6 linked regions of the Homo sapiens genome follow. The protein of the gene in region 4 purifies or fractionates together with the protein of the main gene of each other region. This does not show direct contact. Each region holds a gene or a part of one and is shown on either strand. Other genes may lie near its edges.

Region 1 (3,500 bases), on a different chromosome or scaffold from region 4:
AAGCAGTTTTAGCATGTGAGATCTGAAGAGCTCAATTGCTGCATGTGAGATTCACCAGAGGAACCTAGGGAAGATGACTGGGGACTTTAGGGGTCTGGATTTAGATTAGGTGCCCCTTCAGGCTACCTGTGTCTGTTGGCTTTGATGGCAGGACGACAGTGTTCAGTGTCTCCTGTGGATGGGTATTGGTAAGTTTCAGATATAATATGTCAAAAGCATAACTTAGAGACATTGTTAGTTATCCACATGCAAATTATTCTTATGTCAGAGACAGTCATTAGACTGTTCACAACAAACTTGCAGAACCAGGAAATAATAATAGAGAAAGAGGAGTTGGGGTATGGGAAGAAAACACATACATTCTGGAAGCGGTGGGTTTCTTTTCTTGGGTAAACAAATTAGCTCATAGGAAAGATGCTTGTCTGCTCTTGAACATGTATCTGGGATTATTAAGGAAAAAAATTAGTTCTTTATATACTCCCTGAAAAACCTTGAGAATTTAACTGTAGAGTGTGCATGACAGAGGCTATCTCTGTGTAGTGTCTGCCAGTGGCTGTCATTTAGTACCTGCACCAAGTCAGAACCATTTTCCTCCTCTGAATTTTCTCAGGGTTTGTGCTTTGCTTTTTTTTTTTTAAAGCAATAGGAAGAAAATGTAGATAATTTCATGTTGTTTATGTAGATGGTTCCACTTTTAAAATGGCATAGTAACTTCTTTATTTAGACCTGGTTAATACAAGATTATTTAGCATGTGGGATTTTTTGTTTGTTTGGCTGTGAAGAAATTTTATATTTAGGTTTTTGTTGGGCTATGTAATCAACACTGTCCTTTTACTAATGGTTGCCCATCATTCTAGGCTTTATCAACTCCTTTATCACCCCAGCTCAAAACACCAAACTTAAAAATATATATATTTGGTATACAGAAAGACCTGGCATAATGCACATTTTGAATGTGCATTTTTATTACTGAATTTGTATATGTAATGGATCACCACAAGTCTTCCAAGAATTACAAATATATTTCCATATTGGTGACAGGTGTTCTATTAAGCATTTAGTATGTGAGGGTGCTGTTCATCTTAGTTGGGGCTGTTCTGAATTAATTGTGACAAGCTAATAAGATATTTTGAAAGTTTCTTTCCAAGCTTCTTGAGCTAATGTTTTCCCTCTGGCCAGTGGGGTAGACTGAACTCTTGAAAGACATGTGGGCAGTTGCTGTTCATTTAAGCCAGATGGCATGTGTCAACTCCTTTTCCTGGAAAGGGAGAGGTTTCTTTTTTGGCTGCTGTAATAAAGCCTTGTGGACTTCTTATGAAACTCTTTTCTTTACATAAATTAGTACTTATAGAAGCTTTTCATAGAACTTTGGGCACTCCTCTTTCACTTATGAAGATTCTTAGATGGTTGTATATAAATGTTTTCATGTATAAATTGTTTTATTGAAATTGTGCTGTAGCAAGTTATTGATTAGGTTATTACATAAAAATAGTATTTTTTTAGGATAAAAATAAAGAGATTATATGACAAGGAGTGAGTGGCCCTTTAATATTTTTACCGGTTCCCCAAGCTGCTTACAGTCAAGATCTGAGTTAGTGGTTGGCTGGCAGTGGACAGCACTCTTAACAGTAGCATGTGGATGCTTAGGGAGCCCCTGGAAGCTGCCATGACCCACAGTCAGCCATGGATAGTCTTCTTTATGTGAGCATTGTAATTGCAGCTCTTGACTTTTAACACGCATAGTGAGTTATCACCTTAAATTGAATTTCGTTTTTCCTTTTTGGAAGAATAGAAGGTAGGTGAGTGAGTGAATTCTACAAGCATTTGATTTTCATTTATCCTGATTAAATCCTAAGATCCTGGATTTTAATGACACTTTTTATCTCCACATCCAGAATTCTAAGAAGTTGGGGTGTGAATTGGGCATTTGATAATAGTGACTTTTCTGTTTTCTGGTTTTCTTGGTAATGGATTTTAAAAGTCTGTTTTACTGGGAGACTTATCAAAATTTTCATTTCTTTAAGGTGTTGACTTTAAGGTGAAAACAATTTCAGTGGATGGAAATAAGGCTAAACTTGCAATATGGGTAAGAGTTTTTAAAATGTATTTTTAAAATATTAAACTTTACTTTTTAAGGATGCAGAAATTGATTTGTGTAGTGTTCTAGAGGTGGTGAATGAACAATTTGTATTAAATAACTTTTGGGAGATTTGATACTGATTAAAGGATAAACAGTAATGTCTTATAATTGGGTAATTAGGCAGCTATGTTTTGTTTAAATTTTCACAATGCATAATTCTTTATGAATATTTCAAAACAGAACAGAATATTAAAAAATCATCTCATCTGCCAAAGAGAATCATAATTGGATATGTTTCTTTGAAGTTTTAAAAAGACCATCTAGACTGAACTAACACTAAAGACAATTTTTAAGGGGAGGAGGAATGACGTGATATTTAGGAAAAAATTTTATTTTTCTTGTTTGTTAGTATAGATATTTATAAAATTTGAGGTTTCAAACTTTGGGCTTATTTTTAATGCCTCGTTTTTCCTTACTGGCTTCTTTTCGTTTTCCTGTCAATCCAACCATTCTGATCCCCGTTACTGTACTAGCTAGACCGCTCATGCTAGTGTCAAATAAGGTAGCATTAACTGTCAAAAATATCCAAGATGCTTAGTGTCTATGTTTGTCTCTCTCTGTGTCTCCCTTTCATCAGTCTATTTACCCACCCACATACCGATCTATCTATATCTGTCTATCTAAATATGATCGGTTATATATATATATGTATATTCTAAATATATACTGTTTTATATATCTATTTTTCACATAGACTGTGATAATTATACATATATGTTTGTAATATAAGAAATCATATTAGAACTGATCAGTCATCAAATCGAGACTTATTTCCACATGGTGGTTAAATGGTAAATGCTGTTTGTACATCAGTCACAGATTGAAAACAGCAAGTGTTCATGCATTGTATGATGTCATATTTCTTGGCATTCTCTGAATGGCACACTGTTTCTAATACACATTTATCCCCAAATAACAAATAATTGTGTAAGTGTGTTTAATGTTTTTATGTCAGTTTTTCCTAACATACAATACTTTAAATTTGTTAACCTGTTTGCCCCTTTCCCCCAAATATGTTTAATATCAATCAGAACGGTAATGTCTAACAGAAAACAATTTGGAAAATGTTGGACTAGAGTATGGTAAAATGTGTTGAACGATATAAGAATGTTGGCTTTTTCCATACTAAAGTGGGGGCCTGATTTCCATATGCTTTTCATGGTTAATTTATTATCCCTTTCCGGCCTTGCTGCTGCTTTGTGAAATCCGTAGATTAGAGTAGTATCTGAGACTTGCTGGTTGCAGTGAGATTTTTCTCTCATAGTTTCGTTTTGTTTTAAATTTATTTTCTAGTTCCTGCCTAATAAAAAGGCTGGCAGGTATTATTGAAGAGACATTTTTACCATAGGCCTATAAACAT
Region 2 (3,500 bases), on a different chromosome or scaffold from region 4:
AAAAACTTCTGGCTGGCAGGGGGGCTGTGGCTCATGCCTGTAATCCCAGCACTTTGGGAGGCACAGGCAGGAGGATCACTTTAGTCCAGGAGTTTGAGACCAGCCTGGGCAACATAGGGAGACCTCATCTCCACAAAAAATTCAAAAATTAGCCAGGCATGGAGGTATGCGCCTGTGGTCCCAGCTACTTGGAAAGCTGAGGCAGGAGGATCACCTGAGCCTGGAAGGTTGATGCTGCAGTGAGTAATGATCACGCCACTGCATTCCAGCCTAGGCAACAGAGTGAGACCCTGTTTCAAAACAAAACAAACAACAGAAAAACACACTAACTTTTGAAAAGTCCATTTCATTTCATATTCATTTCCATATTTTTCTCTCATTGAGCTTCTAAACAAGCACAGTACTATGTAAGAAAGAGATCATTTCTGTTTTTGAGTACCCTCTCAACCAGCTCTTTGTCCTACTTATAATGGTTCTGACGATGAGTGCAAATAACTCTATTCTTCCGCTAGTTTCATTAAAATCATCTTAATACTAAACCTATGCTTTCTTCCCTGTGCTCTAGGCCATTGCTCTTTGATACAGCCCATCCATCTTTGGAGACTGCCTAATTCCCTTACTTCATTTACACTGCTACCTTGAAAGTATTAATAGATAATCACATCCCCCTAGTGCTCCCTGTTCCTAAGTTTAGCTCCTTCAGGCTTTTCTCCTAAATCTTAAGCTACCATCAACATAGATTCTATGTCTCTTCCAAAATGTGGTTAGAAAGTATTCTTATTTGGAGTTCAATCCTAGTAGAAAACAGTAATGCTGTTAGGTTAGCACCATACTTTTGATACGTGATCACTATGTTATTTGTGTAAGGGTAATTCAATGACAGTTCACTGCAAGCTATTTGAAACCTCTTTATACTTGCTTTTTTCCAGGTAGCAGTTTCCTGGTTTGCATTAAGGCCATTTATTTCATCTCCCTTGATGCACGATTTGAGATTCAGCATTAATGAATATAATTTCAATGCTGGAGCTCCTTGTGCTATTTTTTTCCAGTTGTTCGGCAATGATTCCCAAACCTGCTAAACTCGTATAATCAAAAAAATCCCAAGTTAAATTTAACACATTCCTTCAATCTATGAATTTAGAAGTTTTTCACAGATAGTTGCCAACAAAGGAGGACATCTTGTTGCCTTTTTTTCCTCCAGGAAGCAGTGTCTAAAAACTAGGAAATAATCCCACTACTCTAGGATCTTAAACATGAACGGCAGATGATTCTTTAGTGATGGTTCTGCTTACCCTCTCTCTCTCTTCCCTTGGCCAGTATTCAAGTCAATCTGTACTCAACAGAAATGTGCCTCAGACTACAGCAACCAAGTAAAGCATTTGGCTTAGAATAAACATTAGTACTCCCAGCCCTGCAAACTCAAAGGCTCAGGAATAAGGAACACAAGGTCTAATTTAAAAGGAAGGTCAACTGAATATACTGGAAAAGTTATGTCTTGATTATATTCAAATTACTGTGGCTTCCCCTTTTTCTAAAGTTCTAAAAGGAAAAAAAATCGCTATATATAATGGCTAATGTATAAATCCAAAATGTTTTATTTTCTTTACTCATAATGACTAATAACAGTATATGCTGATATTACTGATAAATGTCTAGTGAAAATCCTTGTGTTAACAAAAATCATAATTATTCCAGACTAACATGGCATGTAAAAAATAAACAAAAGCCCCAAACTACTCCATACCTGAAAATGCTGTTTTTCAAACTGAGTTTCACGGCCCATGAATTGTGAATTCAATTTAGAAGGTCACTATGGTTCTCTTAACTACCTCACACAGATTAATAATAGGTAATGTTTCACAAGATATTACATATTTGTGTAATTTTGTTATAAATTTCTATTAGTCAAAAACTACTTCTCTATCTGGGTCACAGACAAAAAAGTTTGAAAGCCTTTTTCTAAAGAGCTTTTTTTTTTTGAGACGGAGTCTGGCCCTGTCACCCAGGCTGGAGTGCAGTGGCATGTTCTCGGCTCCCGGGTTCACGCCATTCTCCTGCCTCAGCCCCGAGTAGCTGGGACTACAGGTGCCGGCGACCACCCCTGGCTGATTTTTTGTATTTTTGGTAGAGATGGGGTTTCACCGTGTTAGCCAGGATGGTCTCGATCTCCTGACCTCGTGATCCGCCCACCGCAGCCTCCCAAAGTGCTGGGATTACAGGAGTGAGCCACCGCGTCCGGCCAAGAGCTTTATTTTTCAAGTAATTTCAACATGATTACATGTGAACCAAATATTATCTTTTACTCATATAAACTAACCCCTACTGACTACATTTCAGGTCCTAGAAAATTCTAGTTTGCAATGTAATTTTTAGGTTATTTTTAAATTAATAAGTAGCAAGGGTGTAGCTGAAACTAGATGATGAATACACAGGGGTTTATTCATTACTTAATCTATTTTTGTACATGTTTGAAATTCTAAAGATCTAAAAGAAAAAAAGGAAAAGAAATGGACCTAACAGATAACAAAGTAGTACCATGAATGTTTACAACTTGAGACCTTTAAACACAATGTTTCTAAGGAATAACAATCAAGGAACTTGCTAGGATTTAATTCAGTTAACACTTGGGGTTGCCTTCTTCGACTATAATGGACGGATTTCCAGGTCTTAAAAAATGCATAAGGGACTGCAGAAACTAACTCATATATAGAAAACAAACTTTCTCGAAAGATAACATAAAAATACAAATAGTTAAGTGTGTTTCATTGTCTCTTTATTAGTCAACCACTTTCAGCCAACAGAAAGATCATAAAATACCTACCTACCTGGCAGGAATATTCACTTCTTTATTCACACTGGCAATTTTCCCAGCAAGTTTAATATAAGATCTCTGCATAACAGACACGGTTCTGCCTCCCTTGAAACAAGAACTGCAAGGGTTGTCTGAAGTAGATTTAGAGGCATTTAGATTTCAAAACAGTGCATGCCTCAAAGTTAATTTTCATTATATTCAAAAGTAAGTTTCTAAAAACTTTTAAACAGAAAGTGTTATCATCTCTGAGCCTTTAACCTATTGGAGACAGTATCTAAGCTATAAGGGCAAGATATTTAGTAATTTTTAGAACTGAAAGGAAATTTAGACATCATCTAGTCCAATGGTTTCCAAATCCTACCATCAGGAAGAAAAGAATCTCAAAGGCATAACAATTTATATATGCAAAACAAACTCTTACTTGTGTGTTTTCCTGTATCTTCCTGCACATGAAATACTATGCCTTATTAGTATTCTATCAGGAAAGGATGTGACATTTCGTTATGCATTTTATATTTAATCACATTTAGTATGTGAGTATCCATTTAGATATGATTAAAACTATTGGTACGATTTGGGACTTAATGCTTTCTAATTATAGAAACTTACATAATATATCCAACCCTAATACTTTCAGAGTGATTTCATACCATCTCATTTATATTTCACTGTCTAGTAAATTTGAAGT
Region 3 (3,500 bases), on a different chromosome or scaffold from region 4:
CATTGGACTTCACTGATGTGCACCATGCTTGCTTCTATTATTATGAAAATTTTAAATTGTGGAATCTCCATACAATGTATTAGGTAGCTATTAAAAATGAATATTTACTGACATGAAAAGTTGTCCATGATATATGAGAAAAATGCCATACCATCTCATTTTTGTTTGCTATTTATAAATATATTTCACTTTTTTGAAGTACTGGATATAAGAGAGGAGGCAATTCTGCACCTGGCCCTTTGTGGCCTTACCTGTGCTGGCTTGAGCACTAAGGTATTGCCTGCTGCCAAACACGCAGCACTCTTCCATGCCAGCATCATCAGCGGGTAGTTCCAGGGAATAATAATGGCACAGACACTGCAGGGGAAGAAATTCGACATGCTTAGTTGTTTCAAATAACACAACTCATGATTCACTCAGAGGCACTCTCCTTATCTTACCCGAGTGGCTCTTTCTTGGTGAAGGTCAGATTGCGATTTGGACGGGCCTGGTTGATTGGAATAGTAGAACCCTAAAGAATGAGAAAAGTTGATACTTATTTTACTAATTTAAATAAGTAAATTTCATCTCAAAGGATCCATTTTCTGTCTTCCTCTCTTACTTTTTGTTAGCTGATATGAAAAGAGCGTTTGTTGATAAGAACTATATTCATGCCAAAGAAGGAACAGCTATTTGTTTCTCAAGAGAACCATGAAACACAGAAGAATAAACATAATTCTAATTTAGTCCATTCCTAATTGCTTGGCCTGGCAGAGAATGTGAACTGCCTGCCTATTATCCACTCTCCCCTCTGTCCTTAGTAACAGAATCCCTATATTAATAATGGGGACAGGAATATGCCCAGATCAAATACTATGGTTCCCATTCTCCAGATTAGGGATGGTCAGTGGAAGATACAAGCACAAGGCATTGGAAGGGGAATGCTACTTAAACTAGGCTAACTCTACTCTTTTATTCTTCCCTCCATGTCTGCTTCCTCCTTCTTCCTGTTTAGACTGTTGCTGAAATGGCTGGCACTGCAGTGGTTTTCTTGAGACCATGAGTCAACCTTCAGGGTGGAGGTCACATGGCCTGGCAAAGACAGAAAAAGAGTTTGCATCTCACATACTAGTCCTAACTGCCTGTCTCTGGACTCCTTGAAAGTGAGAGAAAAATAATAGGATTAAAAAAACAGGAATAAGTTGGCTGTTATATGCAGCCAACTTAATCCTAACGGAATCACAATAGTAGCCTTTAATGAAAGCTATTCATTTGCTTTGCCACATAAAATATTATTGCTACTACTAATAGGGTGTACAATTTCTTAAAACACTTGTAGCCAGTTATGTTTTGGAATTCAGAATTTTTTGGACTTTAGAAGTGTAATATAGTGCATATACCTTATATTATCTACTACCCCAGCAGGATTTGGGTAAGCCTCCCATAATCAAACATGCTAGTATTTATTCACTGAAACATTTGAATATTCACTCTAAGTGATGTAAATAAATATTATTAATAGATTATGTTCATTTAGGTCAGGGTTTGGCATCAAACGAGTTTGAACCAATCAAACAATTTTCAGGTTTCAGAACTATTTGGGTTTCATAATTGGGGATAACAGATGGACCTGAACTACCATTAGTAAATATCAATATATGCATGACTTTGTGGCTGAACCACAATAAAAATTTCATTTTTGTGCAAACCTGCTATGTTGCAGACTTGTCTAATCCTGTAGTGTACAAATACTCGTTTCCAATCCTCAAAACATAACTTGCAAAGTATGTATTACTGTGACCATTTTATAGAGGAGGAAAGTAAGGTTCTGAGAGAGAAAATAACTTTAACAACATCGGCTGATAAGGGCCAGAGCTGAGACTTGACTCAGGTCTGTCTGACTGTACATTAACATTGGTGGCAGCAATGTATGCAGATGAAATATGATGTTTCCCAGTCTCCTTAGCAGATAGAGATGGCCAAGGAGGGATATGAGCAAAAGGTACTGGGAAGGTAAGAATGCTTTGTTAAATTCCTCTTACCACTCCCCCTTTCTCACTTCCTTCTTTTTGCTGCTGGGAATGTGGTTGCAATGACTGGTACTGCAGTGGTTATTATGAGTCTATGAGGAACATGCATACTGCAGTTTGCTACAAGCCCTACATCTCCCTTTTGTATCCCCAGTGCTGGAGCTAGTGTTGTTGCCGTTGATCACCCTGTGTTTGCTATTTATTATCATACAGTAAAATGAAATATTTATTTATTATTCCTGTATCTTTATCAAAGTTTTTCTTTAAAAAAATTTTTTTTTGGCCAGGCGCAGTGGCTCATGCCTGTAATCCCAGCACTTTGGGAGGCCAAGGCAGGTGAATTACTTGAGGTCAGGAGTTCGAGACCAGCCTGGCCAACATGGTGAAACCCCGTCTCTGCTAAAAATACAAAAATTAGCCAGGCGTGGTGGTGCACACCTGTAATCCCAGCTACTAGGGAGGCTGAGGCAGGAGAATTGCTTGAACCCAGGAGGCGAGGTTGTAGTGAGCTGAGATGGCGCCACTGCACTCCAGCCTGGGCGACAGAGCAAGACTCCATCTCAAAAGAAAGAAAAAAAAATTTTTTTTTAATTTATTTCTCCTAGGACACATATTCAAAGACAAAGTTTTTCTTATACTCAGTCTGCTTCCACCATCTACGGTAGCTCTCTGGCCTCTGTAGGTATTTGAATTTGTAAACCCTACATGATACTAGGCTTCTCCAAAGTGTCTAGAAAACTATTCAACACCCTCAGGAGATATTATAGTAAAATGCAAAGAAGATCATTAGACTTTAGATTCGGAAAATCTTGACTTCAAATCTGGTCGTATGGGTTACTTGCTACAAATTATAGGAAAGGCATCCATGTCCTCAAGCCTTTGTTTGCTCACATGTAATAAGGGGATAAGAGCTATCCATTTACTTCCCGTAGTTGTTATAACCATTGCGAGGGTCTGAAAGTGTCTCCTAAAATGCATGTGCTGGAAACTTAACCCCTAATGCCACGGTGTTGGGGGGTAGGGCCTAATAGGAGGTGTTTAGGTCGTGAGGGCTCCACCTTAATGAATGGATCAATGCCGCTATAAAAAGGGCTTGCAGGAGTGGATTCACTCTCTTCTACTCTTCTGCCAGGTGAGGACACACCGTTCCTCTGCTCCAGAGGATGCACTACAAGGCACCATCTTAAAACTAGAGGCCAAACCTGCTGACACCTTTATCTTAGACTTCCCGGCCTCCAGAACTGTAAGAGAATAAATTTCTGTTCTTTATAAATTACCTAGTCTCAGGTATTCTGTTACAGCAGCATAAAATGGATTGAGACAACCCTGTTATGTTGGTGTAAAAAAATCTACATAAAAAGAGGATCTGACACAGTGCCTGGTACAAACTAATCAATGTTAGTCCCTTTTTCTTTCAGAACAAATAATATTTGTGCTTACCTGAATTTTGTCGCACCAGCCAGCAAAATATCTGAATGTTTGCACAGACAT
Region 4 (3,500 bases):
CCCCAGGCACAACCTCACCTCCCCACCTGCTCTCCATTACAGGGAGCACCAGGTTGTGCTCTGTCTACTGGAGCCTCTTCTCGGCTTGGAAAGCCTGTCCTGACTCCTCCACCCACAGAAACCTGTCTCCCAAATCCTTGCCTGGCCTGGCCCTCAGACAAGCATCCACCTGCAATGCTGAGCGGGGTGGCCCCAGAGCAGCAGAGCCAAGAAGGAGCAGGGGAGGGAGTACTCACAGCAATGGAGACGGCGCTGATGACAGCTCCCAGGTATCCCTGGATGAACTTGGATGCAGGTGAAGGCTGGAAAACAGAGGCAGAATTTCAGGCCTGCTGGGTGCCCAAAGCTCCCATACTTCCCCTTGTAAGCTGTCCCAGCCAGCAAGAAGCATCCTGCCCACCAGCCTGGAAAGTGGGTAGAAGGAAGAGGCCCCTCAGGACTCAAAGGGATCAGGCCACCCTCAGCTCAGTTCCCAATGCAGAAATATAAATCACCAGTATCCAGGGAGATACTGAAGGGCCCACTTCACTCCTGCCCTGTTCTAGAAAGGTCACTGGCAGACAGTGCTGGGTGGAGGTGGAGAACAGCAAGGCTAACATGGACCATTGAAGGCTGGGGCAAGCAGTCTTCAGTTTAGAGGCTAAATGTTTCAAGGGGGCCATTTGGCATCTGGAGCGCTTTCTAGGTGGAAATGCCAGTGTCAAGGCTCTCACAGGCCTTGCCAGCCCATGGAACAGCTGGGCTCCCATGTCAACAGATGATAGCTGCCCAATATCTCTAGAGAATAATATACCCCAAGTTCCAACACAGACAATTAAGAAAAAGCTAAGGAACTTGCCCTGTGCTACAACTGCAGGTCTAGAAGTGTCTGGTTTAAGATAAAGGGAGTCATCCAAGCAGAGATGGCCATATGTGAAGCCTATGAGAGAGACTTGGGGTGGAGGTTTAGATGTCAGGGGGCAGCCACAGCATATCAGGCCTCTCAATTCCTATGGCCCAGGCCAGCTCCTATTCCCCTCCTCTCCCCCAAGGTGAGCAAATGTTAGGACTCTCCTCTACCCCAAACTGACAGGCCCCCAAAGGGGACTTAGATGCATCCTGCCTTCTTTGCCTTTGAATTGAAGTTGGGGAGAGGTGGCCTTGCCAGCAAAGCAGGGGCCCAGCAGCCCTTCCTGGACAACAGAAGGGTGACTGGGCCTCCACCACAAGCTCTCCAAGGAGTGCAGGGGCTCTGGGGGGGAGTTACCAGCCCTGGACCCTCCCCACTCAGGAGCAGCCCTTCAGCTTGTGGCCAGCAGTCGGGACCTGGGAGCGCTAAGGCAGCTTCCAGAAATTTTGGAGGAAGCTTTATGGGAATTTTGCCCCCAAGTAGCTGATACCATCATGATCCAAAACCCAAATGTAAGAGCTACCCAAGAAGAATCTGAAAGCCAGCCGAACTCATCCCTTGCACTGCTCCCATTTAATGGGCCTTCTTCACTTCATGTAAACAGCCCCTCCCCAGAGGGCTCCTGGCCCAGAAACTGCAGCTGACCTCAGCTGAGTCATGTCTGAGTCGGCCACCCACCTGAAGGGCTGGCATTTTAAATAAGATATCTAGAGGAGGGCCATGCTTAACCAAGAGGCAGCCACTGATGGTGGCATGTCACGCTGTAGGGAGGATGACTGGGCCTCCCTAGCCTGAACCCCACCACTGGGGAGAGGGCAGTGATGCTCACCTTGGTCGCATTGCGGTTTGCATAGTTGACACAGGCATTGTGGCTCTGGTTCAGCCACTGAAAGGCAATGATGAGAGAAGTCAGGGAAGGAGTGGTCACCTCCCTGGAAGCCAGGCCTGGACCCCAGGAGGCCACACATCCCCAGAAAGGCACAGCATGCGGTCTCCAGCTCACATGGTGCCGCCCATGCTGCCGGTCAGCATGACTGACCGTCCTGGTTTGCCCAGGGCTGTGCTGGTGTTAGCACTGGAAGCCCTGCCTCTCGGGAAGTCTCTCGGTTCCTGAATGGGGTCCTGCGCACCCCAGTAGTCCACCTGATCCTGAGACAGTCACCTCTCTTGGAATGATGGCATTCACTGCCCCTGCAGACCCCACTGCCTTTGTCACACCATCTTTATTATATTACCTGCTGGACAAAAGTTGGCCTAGAATGACTGACAGCCCTACAATTCTTTCAAAAATCTCCCAGTCCAGTATCCTGCACCTCCAGTTCCCAGACACAGAGGCCGGCAGGAGTTTAGTTCAGGGAAGACTGACATTTTCTCCTAGAAGACAGACAGGTTTTCCTTCCTGCCCGTCTTTCTCTGCACACACAAACACAGAGATATCCTCAGTTTTCATGGCATCACAACCCAGACTGTCTCCAAGAGCAGGGACCAGGGTCTGTGATGCACTTCACAACCTCAGGTTAGGGGTGGATTTAGCTTCCTCAGCAGATGTGGGGGAGGCTGATGTCAAAATGAGGCTATGGGCCTCAGGGTCACTGGCCTTGGGATGAGCAGCCAAGGGGCAGAGTGGGGGCCACCCCACTGACAAGCCAGCATGTTCCAGGCAGGGGCACGCAGCCCTCATGACCTCTGTCCAAAGGTTAGAGTGACACATGGTGGATTGAGACATGCTGGGCTGCTGGAGACCTGCTCAGCAGGGCCAAAGTCCTGGTTTTCCTTCAGTGGCTTCTGGGCTAGGGGTGGTGTTGGGGTGGACTGACCCTACACGGGGTCTGGACGGGGCAGGAGACACCACAGCAGGGAGTTCTTAACCAGCACCTGTGTGGGCCCTTCCTTCAGGAGCCCTGTTTGCTGCGAGACTGTTACCTGCCAGAAGACAGTGGATGCCAGTGTCTGGTTGGGCAAGAGAAGACCGACTACCTATGAGCAAGAGAGAAGAAATGCTGAAAAAGGCAGAAGAAACATCCTATGCTTTTGCAAAGAAAAAATACGCTACCACAAATGAGTGAGCTGGATCTGTACAAACTGATGTGGTATGCCGTGTACATACAAACTGAGGTTCATTGAGGGAGAGGCTGTGTGATGGGAAAAAACCAAGTTGCAGAATTATATTACAGCATAATCTTATTTATTTAAAGAAAAATCATTTTATATATAACGATATACACAAACACATGCATACACACATTATCTTCAAGCATGAAAAAACCTGTAGTGTGGATGTCTCTGGAGGTTGGGTTGCAGATTACTTTTGCACAATCTTAAATATTTCTGTATTCTTTTAAACAACAGACATGTATTATTTCCACAATTAGGGGGGCAATAAAAACAAGCAAACAAAAGGAATACCTTCGTTTCCACTCAGGTTACCTGACTGCTCACCCTAGCCTTCCCGTAGGATTTTTGCGAGGATTAAACAAAAATCATTTCAAAGGCCTTAAGTGCTTTGTAAATACAAGTTGGGGGAATTTGTATCTGTTATCTGTGAATTTCCATGAAGCAAAAACCTATACCAGGTTTAAGCAACTGAATGAAACATAGATTTCTAATATTT
Region 5 (3,500 bases), on a different chromosome or scaffold from region 4:
TTATTTATTTTTGAGATGGAGTTTCACTCTTGTCACCCAGGCTGGAGTGCAATGGCGTGATCTTGGCTCACTGCAACCTCCGCCTCCCAGGTTCAAGCGATTCTCCTGCCTCAGCCTCCTGAGTAGCTGGGATTACAGGCATGTGCCACCACGCCCCACTAATTTTGTATTTTCAGTAGAGACAGGGTTTCACCATGTTGGCCAGGCTAGTCTTGAACTCCTGACCTCAGCTGATCTGCCCGCCTTGGCCCCCCAAAGTGCTGGGATTACAGCGTGAGCCAGTGCACCCAGCCTCATTATTTTATTTTTTAACTTGATGTACTCTTCAACTTTTCATCATGAGCGTGCACTTCTTAATTTTGCAATAGGATTGTTGGCTCTTTACGGCTTGCCAGTGTTTCTCAAGATTTTTGTTTGTTTCTTTCTTTGATTGTTTGCTTTGTTAATGAGGCCCTCTGAGTCAGGCCCAAGTTGTCTTTCACAAGAATACTGTGATCCAGGCCCCCAGCCCCTTCTCCGGACCCAGGGGTCCAGATCCCAGCCCCTCCTCCCCCAGACACACGGGTCCAGGCCTCTAGCCCCTCCTCCCTCAGACTCAGGGGTCCAGGATCCCAGCCCCTCCTCCCTCAGACCCAGGAGCCCAGACCCCCAGGCCCTCCCCACCCAGACCCAGGAGCCTGGCCTTACAGTGACAGTGGCCAGCAGACCCTCTGGGACATTGGCCACGATGATGCCGATGAGGAAGATGACAGCCTCAAGCCAGGTGTATCCGAGAATGAGGGAGAGGATGAAGAAGGAGACACCCAGGAAGACAGCCACGCCGGTGATGAGCTGGATGAAGTGCTCAATCTCGATGGCGATGGGCGTCTTGCCCACCTCCAGCCCTGATGCCAGGGTGGCGATACGGCCCATGACAGTGCGGTCGCCCGTGGCCACCACCACGCCCCGAGCCGTGCCTGCAGGCCAGAGGGGTTAGGCTGAGGTGGGGTGGCTCAGGGAGGTTCTGGAGGCCTGACCCCCTGGGACACATCCCTGTGTCTGCCCCAGCTGTGTGTCTTCTCTGCACCCGCCTCACCTTCCACACAGTTGGTGGAAAAGAAGGTGATGTTCCGAGTCTCCAAGGGGTTGTCGTGAGTGCAGTCGGGAGAGCGAGTCTGGGGCTCGGATTCGCCAGTCAGGGAGGAGTTGTCCACCTGGGGGTAGGTGCAGCAGAGAGAGGGTTCAGTCCAGGGCCTGGGACAGGAGGGTATTTGTGTACAGGGCTTGGGGCTGAAGCCTGTGTGCCTGGAGATCACAGCTAGAAGCCTGGGTGCCCAGTGGGTGAGTGGTGTGTGGGAGGCCAGAGGCTGGGATCTTGAAGGTGGGGAAGGCACAGTGCTGCTGGCCAAGGTCTAGGGTCCCTAAGGATCTCCGAAAGGTGAGGGCTGGGCCTGGACTCCTGACTGTTGGGTGAGGAGGTGGCCCAGGGCCTAAACTCCTGGGTCTGAGGGAGGAGGGCCTGGGGGCCTGGACTCCTGGGTCTGAGGGAGGAGGGGTTGGGACCTGGACTCCTGAGTGTGAGGGAGGAGGGGCTGGGCCTGAGCTCCTGGGCAGCCCGAGGGAGGGTAAAGCCGGGCCCTAGGCCCAGGCCCACCTTGCAGCCGTGGGCTGAGATGATCCGCAGGTCAGCTGGCACTCGGTCTCCACCCTTGATCTCCACCAGGTCCCCGACCACCACCTCCTCAGCGTTCACCTGCATCTTCTCACCTTCCCGGATCACCAGGGCTTGCTGAGGTGGGATGGAGTAATGTCACCTCCCAGACTCCCTCTGCCTGGGGGTCACTGGGCCCGGCCCCCAGCCCATACACTAACACCCCCGTCTGGCCCCTTGCTGGGCACCCTTCACCTGGGGCACCATGTTCTTGAAGGACTCCATGATCTTGGAGCTCTTGGCCTCCTGGTAGTAGGAGAAGCAGCCAGTGATGATCACCACGGCCGCCAGCACGATGCCCAGGTACAGCTGTGGGGAGATGTGGGGATGTTGATCAGGGGCCGCCCAAGCCACTCTCCACCAGTCCCTGCTCGCCTGGAGTCTGGGAAGGGAGCTTTGTGTCAGTGGGGGTCTGTATTTGTGTGTCTGACCCTAGGTTGGTTATGAGGGTTGGTGTGTCTGAGTCTCCCCTGTTTGTGCTTGAGTCCCTCTTTCTGTAATGGTTGTGTTTGAATCTAAGGGTCTGTCGATTTTTTTTTTGAGACAGAGTCTCACTCTGTCGCCCAGGCTGGAGTGCAATGGCATGATCTTGGCTCACTGCAATCTCCGCCTCCTGGTTCAAGCGATCCTCCTGCCTCAGCCTCCTGAGTAGCTGGGACTACAGGTGCATGCCACCACACCTGGCTAATTTTGTGTATTTTTAGTAGAGATGGGGCTTCACCATGTTGGCTAGGATGGTCTTGATCTCCTGACCTTGTGATCTATCACCTTGGCCTCCCAAAGTGCTGGGATTACAGGTGTGAGCCATCTTTCCTGGCATTTTTTTTTTTTTTTTTTTTTGAGACAGGGTCTCGCTCTGCTGCCTAGGATGGAGTACAGTGGCACAATCTCAGTTCACTGTAGCCTCAACCTCCCAGATTCAAGCAATCCTCCCTCCTCAGCCTCCGGAGTAGCTAGGACTACAGGTGTGCGCCACCAGGCCCGGCTATGTTTTGTGTTTTTTTAGAGGCTGGGTCTGTCTGGGTATGTTACTCAGGCTACTGGAACTCCTGGTCTCAAGTTACCCTCCTGCCTTGGCCTCCCAAGGTGCTGGGATGACAGGCGTGAGCCACCATGCCCGACTTGTCCATCTGTTTTGTGTGTGTGTCTGTCCTCCTGCACATGTTGAGTCTGGGATGCGGCTGTCTGTCCATGTGTCTGTCTGACTGGCTGCATGCCTGACTTTACATTCTACAAGGCAGCTTCTTTGGTTCTCTGTGTGTGGATCTCTGTCTCTGTGTCTCCAGCTCTGCCTCTCTGTGAGAGCTTATGTCTAAGACTGTTTAGATTTGAACATCTGAGGACACTCTCTGTGCCTGACTCTCATGTCTCTCTGTCACCAGGTTATGCCTGCATTGCTGTGTGTGTGTGTGCGTGTCAGTGTGTGTGTGAGTTTCTCTGTCAGTGTATATCTGAGTCTGTGTCTGTGTTTCTGAATTAGGTGGCCATGTTTGAAACCACATCCTGGTGTGGCATCTGCGTTGACCCTCCGTGCACATGCGTGTGTGTGCACACACGCCTACCCAGGTGAGCAGCTCTGTGTGGCTGGTGTGTGGTCTGTGTTATGCGCATGGGATCTGAGGCTGCATCTCGAATGTGTCCCTGTGTTATGGGGATGGGCCCTGATGTATCAGCAGCGGGGTGTGCCTGGGTCTCTATGTGACACTCACTCTGGGTATCTGTCAAGCCATGACCACCTGCTGGTGTCTGTTCTCAAGGCCGCTGAGGTCACACAGCCTTGGGACAGAGCCCCGGCTCACACATCCTGCTG
Region 6 (3,500 bases), on a different chromosome or scaffold from region 4:
GTGTCTGCATGTGAATGTCACACACATCTCAAACTCAAGGAGTATAGAATGGAACTTGCCATATATTATTCTCTCTTTGTGTTTCTACTGTCAATGAACAGGACCTAGTATTCCGTAAACAGGATCTAATAATGTTCAGTAAACACCCTACGTTTAAGGTAAAATCCTAGGCTCAGATTGCTTTTGGCAGTAACGGCAGACTAAGGAACTAAATAGCCCTCCTATAACAAAACAAGTAGATTCTGAATAAAACTTGAATTTTAAAGCCTTAGGATTTGCAGGAGGTAAAGAATATCCCAATGGTGCCTTTCCATTGTTTATTCCCCTCCCCACTCAAAAAATAAAACAAAGCAAAAGCTATGTGCTATAAAGACAGTAGGAGCTGTATACATTAAGGGAAGTTAAAAAAGCAGAATTTGCCCTGAGGAAAAAAATCCAAAATCAATATCGCTCTAAAGAGAACAAGCCTTGCAGCAGTAGTAGACAGGGGAGAAAAATCTGAACTTCTCCTCCTCACATTAGGGCAGAGACTTATGGTAGCCTGAAAATCCTGAGGATCCCATCATCAAATCTTCTTTGGGGGAAAACATCACCTATTTAGGTCTTAGAATAGGATCAGACAAATATACACTAAAAAAGAAAAAAAAATAGCTGTCTGAGAAAGAATCAGCAAAAACAATGACCACACTATTTAGATCACCAAAATTTTAGATAATGGGATCATCCAATATGGAATATACAAAAATCATACACGGAATATTTAAAATCATAAAAGATAAAATTGAGAAATGAACGGTTCACATGAAACTATAAAATACTTGGCAGATGTAATAAGTGTCAAATTTAATTTTAGATATGAAAAATGTTTGTTGGAATTTCTACTTCAGTGAGTAGATTACATAGAATATTAAACAAGATGAAGGGAGAGTTAATAAACCGGTAAATACATCTGAAGAAATTGCTCCAAATACAGCACAGAGTAATAAGGAAAGAGATTACATATAATAGAGGTTTAAAAATATGAGGAAAAGATGAAAATGGCAAGCTTTCAAAGAAGTCAGAAGGTGAAAATAAAGAGAGTGGAGAAGTATAGCTGAAGAGTACATTTATCAAGCTTGACACCCAACCAACAGGAAAACACACATTTTTCTTGAACACACATAGACCCTTTGTACAAAATGCCCATGTACTTGTTCATGAAAAATTTCCAATCAACTTTAAAGATCATAACATGTTCTCTGATGATGACTCAATTAGTCTAGAAGTCAATAGTAAAAAAGGTAAATTTTAAAAGCCTCTGTAATTAGGAAATGTGATCTAATTCATAATTTAATGTATTTCCAATAAAATGTTAGTAAGATGTATTGATAGATGGATTACAGATCTCGACAAGGTGAGTTTAATATTTATATGAAGGACAAAAGCCCTAAAATACCCAAACACTTGTGAAGAAGAAAAAGTAAGGAGATTTGTCCTGTATATAGTAAGATTTCTTATAAAACAATAGAAATTAATACAGTGGGACACTGATCTAAGTACTGACAGAGCTTTAGAAGAGGAGAGCCCAGAAAATATACATAAAACAGGTGACTTTGCAAGATATTGCCAAAAGAAAGGATTAGTTAACAAATGGTGCTTGAAATTTGGCTATCCATCAAGAAAAAAAACCCCACGAAACTGAATCTCTACCTTATATAATACATAAAAACCAATTCCAAATGGAATAGATTTTGACGTGTAAGACAAAGCTTTAAAATATTCAGAAAAAAATACACAAAAATAACACCTAGATGGAATTTGGTAGGAAAATTCTTCTAAAAGAAGATGCACAGGCATATAAAACTCATCATAAAAATAAAAGATTCATACATTTGACAGATTAAATTGATAATTAATGTTAGTGAAATAAAATCATAGAGAAAATGAAAAGATAAACCAAATTTGGGAGAAAAAATATACATCTGAATTACATTCTCAATCTTTACATATATGGAGATATTCATTTTCAACATTTTATATTGAGGTAACTGATTATATGAAAGAAATGATTGTCTCAAAACACAACTATGGCTTTGTCAATAGATACTCTTTGGAACTACGTTATTAGATAAGTGAGGTGAGACGGATGAGCACACACTGCTGTCATTCCCTAAATGAAATGCCAAAAGGTTGGTTATAGCTACACTGGCAATACTGCATTTAAAGTTCAAGAATGTTTTTAAAAATGTATTGCTCAAGATCTTTATGAAACATGCCCCCCAAAAATGAATTTTTAAAAAGTCTCTAAGTAACCATTGAACAAATAGTTTTTAAAACAGCATTTTGGCATGGCTTGCTTTGCTAAACTTTTGTAATTGTTAGCAGTTTTAATTCAAAATTGATACCCCAAAACTTAATGAAGGGAGAAGAAGTAAATGCTTTTCTTCATAAACTTTATAGGATATCTTTATATGATCTTGAAATGATAGTATAAATGCGAGTCACTGCAAAGCTTTTAAACGGGTTAAAATTGTTTCTGGTATCCAATTGCTTACACGACTTCACTGCATCCTTGTCTCTATCATGTTTCCCTCAGAGTTAACATTATACCATCTCTCTATGCCAACTAATGTTATACAATTTCTCATTTATTACAGCACATCAATTTGCTGCAGTCTTCCACCCTCCACAATACCACTGGTCTTGCTGTTTGAATTACAAAGAGGAACAATGGTTTCGTACATCCTAGAAAAATAGCAAGCATTTAAGAGAACTCCTCTACAGATTCCAATCCTGGCCCTACTATTCCCTAGCCATTTACCTGACTCTCCAAGAACCCACACTTCACCCCTCCCCACAAGCTCCCCTCACTCCTCCCCTTTCTCTCCTTGGTAATATGGGGGTAGTGACAGTGCAGGCACTGTTCTTCATAGAATGAATATGACAATGAAATGAGATAATACATATAAATAGTTAAGCCCCATGTCTGCATCTATTAGGGGTTGTAGCAAGTTGCTACAATGTAATGAAAATGTTATCTAATTTAACAAAAATAGCCAGCTGTTATCGAACCCCTAATATTTGCAGACATTGGGCTTATAGAAGGATTCTTCTCCTTTCATTAAGTTTTAGGGCATAAATTTTGAATAAAAATTATTAACAGTTAAAACACATGTATATGACAGCTTGGTCCCAGGATTCTGTCACAATAAAGCATGTGTACCTCTTCAGGGCATCCACTGTCCACCCAGTCCTGCCGATGACGATCAAATCCACTGGAACATCTTCAAAGAAGACCACAATGCAGTTCAGAAAAGGAAGGATAGGGTGCAGGGTGGTGGACAGAAATTAAAAGTAAAAGATTAGTAGGTAGTTCATTCTCACATTTTCAGTTTAGCATAACATTAACTCTTCTATAGAACTCGCAACTGGAGAAGCAGGGAAATATTTAGAGGGTTGCTAAATAATCACTCATTCCTTAGGATGTCACTGTTAGGATCGCACATGGCAACCAAATCACT

What was found.
Region 1: the proteins of SFXN5 (region 4) and RAB18 purify together in Homo sapiens (co-immunoprecipitation; one large-scale study listed by IntAct). This does not show direct contact.
Region 2: the proteins of SFXN5 (region 4) and NPTN purify together in Homo sapiens (co-immunoprecipitation; one large-scale study listed by IntAct). This does not show direct contact.
Region 3: the proteins of SFXN5 (region 4) and ALDH1L2 purify together in Homo sapiens (co-immunoprecipitation; one large-scale study listed by IntAct). This does not show direct contact.
Region 5: the proteins of SFXN5 (region 4) and ATP1A3 purify together in Homo sapiens (affinity purification with mass spectrometry; one large-scale study listed by BioGRID and IntAct). This does not show direct contact.
Region 6: the proteins of SFXN5 (region 4) and PLXDC2 purify together in Homo sapiens (affinity purification with mass spectrometry; one large-scale study listed by BioGRID and IntAct). This does not show direct contact.

Annotation. Positions count from the first base shown.
Region 1 is NC_000010.11:27,524,804-27,528,303, forward strand, and holds part of RAB18 (ras-related protein Rab-18), read left to right. Parts: intron 1-2,024; coding exon 2,025-2,086; intron 2,087-3,500. UniProt on the Homo sapiens protein: The small GTPases Rab are key regulators of intracellular membrane trafficking, from the formation of transport vesicles to their fusion with membranes.
Region 2 is NC_000015.10:73,623,390-73,626,889, forward strand, and holds part of NPTN (neuroplastin isoform b precursor), read right to left. Parts: intron 1-3,500. UniProt on the Homo sapiens protein: Probable homophilic and heterophilic cell adhesion molecule involved in long term potentiation at hippocampal excitatory synapses through activation of p38MAPK. May also regulate neurite outgrowth by activating the FGFR1 signaling pathway.
Region 3 is NC_000012.12:105,046,459-105,049,958, forward strand, and holds part of ALDH1L2 (mitochondrial 10-formyltetrahydrofolate dehydrogenase precursor), read right to left. Parts: coding exon 3,450-3,500; intron 512-3,449; coding exon 441-511; intron 358-440; coding exon 252-357; intron 1-251. UniProt on the Homo sapiens protein: Mitochondrial 10-formyltetrahydrofolate dehydrogenase that catalyzes the NADP(+)-dependent conversion of 10-formyltetrahydrofolate to tetrahydrofolate and carbon dioxide.
Region 4 is NC_000002.12:72,998,713-73,002,212, forward strand, and holds part of SFXN5 (sideroflexin-5), read right to left. Parts: intron 2,867-3,500; coding exon 2,813-2,866; intron 1,776-2,812; coding exon 1,719-1,775; intron 303-1,718; coding exon 237-302; intron 1-236. UniProt on the Homo sapiens protein: Mitochondrial amino-acid transporter. Transports citrate. Does not act as a serine transporter: not able to mediate transport of serine into mitochondria.
Region 5 is NC_000019.10:41,984,231-41,987,730, forward strand, and holds part of ATP1A3 (sodium/potassium-transporting ATPase subunit alpha-3), read right to left. Parts: intron 2,000-3,500; coding exon 1,886-1,999; intron 1,769-1,885; coding exon 1,634-1,768; intron 1,194-1,633; coding exon 1,076-1,193; intron 957-1,075; coding exon 688-956; intron 1-687. UniProt on the Homo sapiens protein: This is the catalytic component of the active enzyme, which catalyzes the hydrolysis of ATP coupled with the exchange of sodium and potassium ions across the plasma membrane.
Region 6 is NC_000010.11:20,211,432-20,214,931, reverse strand, and holds part of PLXDC2 (plexin domain-containing protein 2 isoform 1 precursor), read right to left. Parts: intron 3,264-3,500; coding exon 3,203-3,263; intron 1-3,202. UniProt on the Homo sapiens protein: May play a role in tumor angiogenesis.